Homo sapiens: one gene and its partner. The gene in region 1 interacts genetically with each later gene. Each region holds a gene or a part of one and is shown on either strand. Other genes may lie near its edges.

The links.
Region 2: changes in GRK2 (region 1) and ALAD together harm fitness more than expected from each alone (negative genetic interaction), as found in Homo sapiens cells (one large-scale study listed by BioGRID).

The regions. Positions count from the first base shown.
Region 1 is NC_000011.10:67,276,331-67,280,142, reverse strand, and holds part of GRK2 (beta-adrenergic receptor kinase 1), read right to left. Parts: intron 2,872-3,812; coding exon 2,795-2,871; intron 944-2,794; coding exon 870-943; intron 726-869; coding exon 624-725; intron 518-623; coding exon 443-517; intron 305-442; coding exon 243-304; intron 1-242. UniProt on the Homo sapiens protein: Specifically phosphorylates the agonist-occupied form of the beta-adrenergic and closely related receptors, probably inducing a desensitization of them. Key regulator of LPAR1 signaling.
Region 2 is NC_000009.12:113,391,285-113,394,784, forward strand, and holds part of ALAD (delta-aminolevulinic acid dehydratase), read right to left. Parts: intron 2,354-3,500; exon of another isoform or gene 2,351-2,353; coding exon of another isoform or gene 2,276-2,350; coding exon 2,163-2,275; intron 1,052-2,162; coding exon of another isoform or gene 886-1,051; coding exon 835-885; intron 340-834; coding exon 243-339; intron 1-242.

The sequences.
Region 1 (3,812 bases):
CCTGGAGCTAGGAGACTGCCTGGGATGGGCTTTGAGCTGCCTGGTGCTGAGGAGGGCAGGGTGGGAGATGACCTGCAGCCTGTCTGACTTCTCAGGAGTCCTTGCAAGGGGGCCGCTGACGGGCCAGCCACCTGCCTGCTCAGGGCCTAATGAAGGCTGGCTTCTGCCCTCCACGCCAGCCATACCCCTTCTGAGAGCGGCCCCTCCCTCCCCCTTCCTCTCCCACACTTCCCTGCTCTCACCTCTCAATGAATTTCTGGAACACGTCCCCTCGGAGGTTTTGACAAATCTCTTCGATGTATGGCTAAGGGAGGAAGCTGGAAGTTGGTGACTGAGCCCCGAGAGACCGTGGTTGCCCAGGCCCCACCCCTGGCTGACCAGGCTTGTTGACCAGGGGCTGTCCAAGGTGACCTTGCCTGGGGAGGGACCGGGAGGCACACACCTGGAAGAGATCCGGAGGCACCTGCTTCTTCCCCAGGTGGCCTTGGACATGCTCAGTGGCACTCTTCGAGAAGGGCTGGGGAAGACAGAGGTGGCCATGAATTCTCAGCAGGGTCCTCTCTTCCCCTCCCAATCTGCAGGTGACTCTGGGCCAGCACACAGGGCCAGCTGAGGACACTCACATGCGAGCAGGCCAGCAGCTCCTTCATGATGTATGAGTCGAAGATCTCCCGGCTGCGGGCCACACGCTCCTCCTCCGTCTCCAGCTTCTCGTACTTCTTGATCTGGAGGACAGGATTCCTGCAGGTCATCTAGAGCCCAGCAGGGAATGGGGATGCCCACACCAGGCAGCTTGTGGGTTCCACAAAGCCGCCCCAACCTCCTCCCCTTTCTCCAGGCAGAGCAGGGCTTGGGCCTCTGGGTCTCACCTCCTCATAGAATTCCACCAAGGGCCTGGCCTCCTCCAGGTGGTTCAGGCAGAAGTCTCGGAAGAGCAGGTACCCTGAAGGCAACAGTGTAAGGTCACAGAGCCACGCCTCTCTCAGAGGCCTTCCCATCATTGTGGATGGTGTGGGTTGGGCTCCCTGGGCAGAACTGGCTATGGAGGTGGCAAAGGTGGTCTCGGCCCCAGGCAAGGGGTGGGCCAGGCAGCTGCTAAGGCTGCTGCCAACGTGAAGATTCCTGGATTCTGGGTTGGGGCCCCTGTGTTTCTACCCTCTTCCTGAAATCTGTTTCCCCAGGTGGTAGCTGGACGGCGATGGGCACCAGGGTGAGGCAGAGGAGCGGGGTTGGCTCTGGCATCAGGGAGCCCTGGCTTAGCACCTGGGCCCCCACTCACTGCAGCCCAGGGCCCTGCGCCTGCTCTGTGAGGCCGATACCCCCCACCGGGGCGGGCTGTGCAGGTGCAACACGATTCAGTCTGGGGGCCCTGGGATGCTGTGGCCACCGGGGCCAGGTCAGGCTGCAGCATGGGGAAAAGGTTAGCAGGGGGCTCTGAGGCCACACCACTCCTCTGGACCCTGCCCCACTCCAGTGTCTGGCTGATTTGCACAGCAGCCTGAGAAACAGGCAGGGAGGGTGGGTCCAGTTGGGGAAACTAGGGCTCAGGGAGCTGGTCAGACACACTGTCTGTGGCAGAGGCTCAAGTGGAACTCAGGGCTACTCCACCAAATGGCAGGTCCCTGGGAAAGAGGTTGGGGCTGGGGCCTCAGGGCAGGGGGCATGGAACGGGTGTAAGCCACAGGGAACTGGAGAGGCAAGGTGGGCTGTGGGAGGGGCTCTCAGGGGACCCCAGATAGGGTGTCCTCATGCCTGAGTAAGGGGCCTGGACCCTGGACCCCGGCCCCCGAGCACTACCAGGGGACAGAGGCCCTCCTCAGGCCTCCAGTCTGACACGGGTAACCAGGCTCGAGCTGGGTGGCCTCTCATGCCTTCGGGGGCACTGCCTGGGCACCTGGGTCAGAGCTGCGGCCATCATTTCAGTCCTCACTGCCTGGCCTTTAGTGCAGGGCCTTTGAGGAATGGGGGCCAGGCTTCACAGTGGGCACAGTGCTCCCATCTGACTCTGACAGGCCTGCACAGTCGGACTCATGAGTCCCATCTCCCAGATGAGGACACCATCAGGCTCAGAGAGGTGAAGCAACTTGCCCAAGGACAAAAGGCACAGGCCTGGGACCCAAACTTTGTGCTTCTTGACACACCGACTCCCCCAGGCTGACCCCCAATGCCTGATCCCATCAGGCCAGGATACCCCCTGTCCAGAGCTGAGCTCCTGTTCTCGGGAAGGCCAAATCAGAGCCATGTGGGGCTGGAGCCTGCTTCCCGAGACCTGCCCCAAGCCTGCCCTCCGGGCCAGGTCCGCAGGGTGGGTCACATGAAACTTCTGACAGCAGGCATCAGACACCAGCTGGAGGAGGAATGGAGGGCCAACACCAGGCAGGTTGCTTACAAAGAGGGCCCATGGGGTGGGGCGGGGCCAACCACAGCTCGGCAGGCGCCACAGGAAGGGCCCCGCCTCTTCCTGTCAGTTCTACCAACGGCCCAGAGCAGCTGCGGCCGCGCCAAGGGGAAGCTGCAACTCTCAAAAACAAAAACCCCAAAGGAGGAACTTCCCTGGCGGCCCTGGAAGACTCTGGGCCCCCACCCCCACCACGGGGCTCCCTGGGCCGACAGCCAGGGGCAAGGAGGCACGCAGGGTCGCAGCGACTTGGAGCAAGCCCTGGGGTCTCGCTGGCTGCTCCACCCTGAGTGGATGGGAGGCCAAATCTCTGGAGAGTGGGGAGCACAGCTGGGCTGGCTGGGGTAGGGGCAAGAAGTTAAGTCCGGTGGCTGGCAGAGCCACTGCCATACTCACCCAGCTTCTGGGAAAAGATCTTCTCAAAGGTCACCTCGCCCCGGTCCTCCAGGTACTTCTGCATGACACTGCGGATGCTGTGGGTCAGGGGGGCGCAGTAAGCAGAAGCCCCCAGAGCCCGTGGGGGCTGCAGGCCCAGAAACGCGAGCTGAGGGCACTGTGGTGGTGTCGCCACTCCCTCCAGGAAGGAGGCCAGCCCGTCAGGCCTACTCACTTATCCCAGCCACAGGTCAGACCAGAAGGCTTCAAGGAAGCCTTTGCCTGCACCGCCCCCGCCAGGCTGTGTCCTCAAAGGCCAGGGTGGCCGGCAGGTGGCCCCCTGCTCAGAGGCCCACCGCCTGTGGGGTCTCGTCCCAGTGATGCCACCGGCTGGCTTTGGGAACTTGGCCAAGTCACAAAAGCCAAGCCTGGTTTGTGAGCGGATGAAAAGACACACATGTGGCATCTCCACGCAGCAGCACATGGCTCGGCTGTAAAAAGGAACAAGGCACCAACAGGGGCCACAACGTGGATGAGCCTTGAAAACATGAGGCTGAACGAAGCCAGTCACAAAGGGTTGCCACATATTGTGAGATTCCACTCATATGAACAGATCCACGGACACAGAACGCAGATCCGTGGCTGCCGGGGGCTGGAGAGAGGGAGAGGAGTGACTGCGGTGGGGACGGGGTTTCTTTTTGGGGTAAGGGTTGCACAACACGGTCAATGTACTAAAAAACACTACATTGTATAATAAAATGATGAATTTTATATGAATTGCATCTCAATTTTTTAAATTGTAAGAAAAGGCCATGCCTTGGTTCGTGTGTCCCTAGTACTTGGATATAAAATGTGACCCCTGCCCTGGGTTGCTTGGTATGGCCATAGGGGAGGGCCTGGCCATTGTGACCCTCAAAACCCAACCCGACATCCCCCACCCTGTTTATCTCACCCCACACTGAGTGCTGTCTGGGAGCGCCACACCAGGCTACACTCCCGGCCTCAAATACCACCTTACTGTCCCCTCCTGCCCTCTCCT
Region 2 (3,500 bases), on another chromosome or scaffold:
CTCGACTTTCTGGGCTCAAGCAATCCTCCCACCTCTCCACCTCCCGAGTAGCTGGGACTACAGGCACATACCCCCACACCCAGCTAACTTTTGTATTTTTTGTAGAGATGGGTTTTGCCATGTTGTCCAGGCTGGTCTCAAAATCCTGGGCTCAAGTGATCCACCCACTTTGGCCTCCCAAAGTGCTGGGATTACGGGCGTGAGCGCAACCTCCCTTCTTAGCCCTTCCTTTGATTCTTCACCTTGGGAACTCTGCTGGGGACGCCAAAGATCAAGACACAGCGTAGGCCCTCTTCCACCAAGGGCCTCAGCATCTCTTCCAGCCGCTTCACACCATACCTGTGTGGGTGTGGGTAGAGGGGTTGAAGGAAGGCAGGTCCCAGGCAACGGTCCTCCGGACCCCACCACACTGTGTGCCTCTGTTAGAAACCAAGCTGCATATGGCACCAGGAGGGCTCAAGCCCCCAGGACAGAAGGGGCAGGGATGCATCCACTAAATAGGAGGGAAGACTGAGGCCCTGAGTAGCAGAGCTCCGGAATTCGGCTGTGGAAGGCTCCTTCGAGGCCCTCTTTTTGAACTCCCATCTGCAGTTCAGCTCCCTTCTGCAACAGCCTCTGCCACGACGTCTCGGGTGATGGGTAGCTCTTTACTTTATGGGGCTGCCCCTTCCACTGTGGAACAGCTCTGGCCCCGGGGAAACCCTTTCCTCTACTGAGCTAATGTCTGTCTGTCCGCATCTTCTACTTCCTAGGTCTGCTTCTGCCTCCCAGCACTTCCACCTGTGGAATCTCTCCCTCCACCACCCGCTGGCCCCCCAACTCCACGTCTCCTACCTGGCCACTCCTGGGAGGCTGGTGATAGGCTGTATGTCATCAGGAACATCCCTGCAAGAGCGGGGGTGGGATATGGATTGGTAGCTGTGGGAAGGGCCAGTGGTGCGGGGGCGACTGAGAGGGATGGTTGGGAAGCAGGAAAGAAATATGGAAGTGGAGATGGTGGGAGGAGGATGGGATCCAGTGTCTGGCTTCCCTGCCTGGCCAAGCCCAGGGCCTGAAATAATAATAGGAACAACAAGAATAACAGTGACAACACTAGCAACTGTACTAAAAGAACGGTAATTACAGGAAGGAATTAAGTGGTTAAGAACTTGGACTCTGAATTTGGCAGGTCCTTGCTTTCTATCCCAGCCACTTACTGCCTGGGTGACCGTGGCCAAGTTCTATCATCTCTTTGAGCCTTAGGCCTTCATCTATATCATGCGTGGTTAATTCATTCATTCAACAAATATTTATTGAGTACTTATTATGTGCCAAGTACTGTTCTAGGCCCTGATGATACAACAGTGAACAAAATAGACAAACATCCCTGCCCTCATGGAGCTGATGTTCTAGAGGATAGCTACTCCTTCTTCATACAAATGCTCTCAGAATTGAATGAGATAATGTGTGTAGGTGCTTAGCATAGTACCTGGTAGATAGTAAGTACTCAGTAAATGTCTGCATTATTATTAACAATCACGATTGCCATCTCTTTTTTTTTTTTTTTTTTTTGAGATGGAGTCTGGCTCCGTCGCCCAGGCTGGAGTGAAGTGGTGCAATCTCGGCTCACTGCAAGCTCCGCCTCCCGGGTTCACGCCATTCTCCTGCCTCAGCCTCCCAAGTAGCTGGGACTACAGGCACCCGCCACCACGCCTGGCTAATTTCTTTGTGTTTTTAGTAGAGACAGGGTTTCACCATATTAGCCAGGATGGTCTCGATCTCCTGACCTCGTGATCCGCCTGCCTCAGCCTCCCAAAGTGCTGGGATTACAGGCGTGAGCCACCGTGCCCAGCCTCAATGACTGCCATCTCTTACAGGTACATAGCACTTTACAATGTACAGAGCACCTTCTCAGCTTCTGTCTTACTGCAAGAGCTCAGGATGGCAGGCAAGGGTTATTCTTCTAATTTTCCAAATGGGATGAATGAGTTCTTTCAAAGTTTGTTTTGTTCCTAAGATTCCTGTCCTTAATCCAAGTAGCCTGCTTCCAGTGCCTTGAATTTCAAGCTGACAGCTCACTTTGCCACCCCCAGCCATACTGATGCCCGCTCCAGTCAACACTCCCTCCCCAACCCCAACCCCAACCAGCAGAGCAGAGGCCTGGCCCATTCTTGGAGACTCACGTGACAAAGATGGGGTAGATGAGGTTGGAGGCATTGAGGGTGGTGGTGGCTGTCTGCCAGGCCCGAAGTAGTGGGTGGAAGTAGCCGCTGTGCAGAACGGACTGGGGCTGCATGGCGTGGGCCAGTGGGCACAGGGGCATCAGTTGGTTGGAACCGAGGGCTCCTGGGGCATTGGCTGCAGGCTCTGTCTGTGGGGGGTGATGGGTGGCACATGAGACATGGTCCCTGTCCTCAGGAGATGGTCACATCTGGAAAACAGCTCTTCTAGATTCCTGCCTCCCCTCTCTCTAGCCCAATGCTACTCACAGCATGGTTCACCAATCCCTGCTGGTCAACAAGGTAAGTTGAGAAATGAAAGTAAGTCTTTAGAAACTTTCATGACAATCAGAATCTAATGATATAAAATTTGGGCTTGTATTTTATGTGACTGCTTCTTGTTCATTATTATCTTTTAAAGTAAACATCTGAGCAAGCAATGACTGTTTAAAAAAAATTCTCTTCTTTTTTTTTTTTTCACACAGGGTCTCTGTCGCCCAGGCTGGAGTGCAGTGGTGCAATCTCGACTCACTGCAGCCTTGACCTCCCGGGCTCAACTGTTTCTCCCAACTCAGCCTCCCAAGTAGCTGGGACTGCAGGTGTGCACCACAACATCCAGCTAATTTTCGAATTTTTTGTAGAGATGGAGGTCTTGCCATGCTTCCCAGGATGGTCTCGAACTCCTGGGCTCAAGCAATCTGCCTGCCTCAGCCTCCCAAAGTGCCGGGATTACAGGCGTGAGCCACGGTGCCTAGCCAAAAAAGTAATTTTCTAGCTGGGCATGGTGGCTCACGCCTGTAATCCCGGCACTTTGGGAGGCTGAGGTGGCAGGATGGCTTGAGCCCAAGAGTTCGAGACCAGCCTGGGCAACATGGCGAGACCCTGTATCTACAAAAAGTTTAAAAATCAGCCAGGTGTGGTGGTCCACACCTGTAGTCCCAGCTACTCAGGAGGCTAAAGCAAGAGGATCGCTTGAGCCCAGGAGTTCAAGGTTGCAGTAAGCTATGATTGCACCACTGCACTCCAGCCTGGGTGAGAGAGGGAGACGTCTCTAAAAAAAAATAATAATTTTATTGCATTGCATTTTATCAAAGAATCAATAAATTGGAAATAGAAAAAAAAGAACTAATCCTTCCTTATGCATAAAGAAGCACTGATCTAGCCAACATTTAAACTTTGTTTATTCCACAAAAAATGCCCGTGTTCATGGCAGAACTTTTAGAAAAGTGCAGATAAGCAAAAAGAGAAAAATCCCCTGCAATTCTACCTCTAGAGAAAAGTACTGTTGGCCGGGCATGGCGG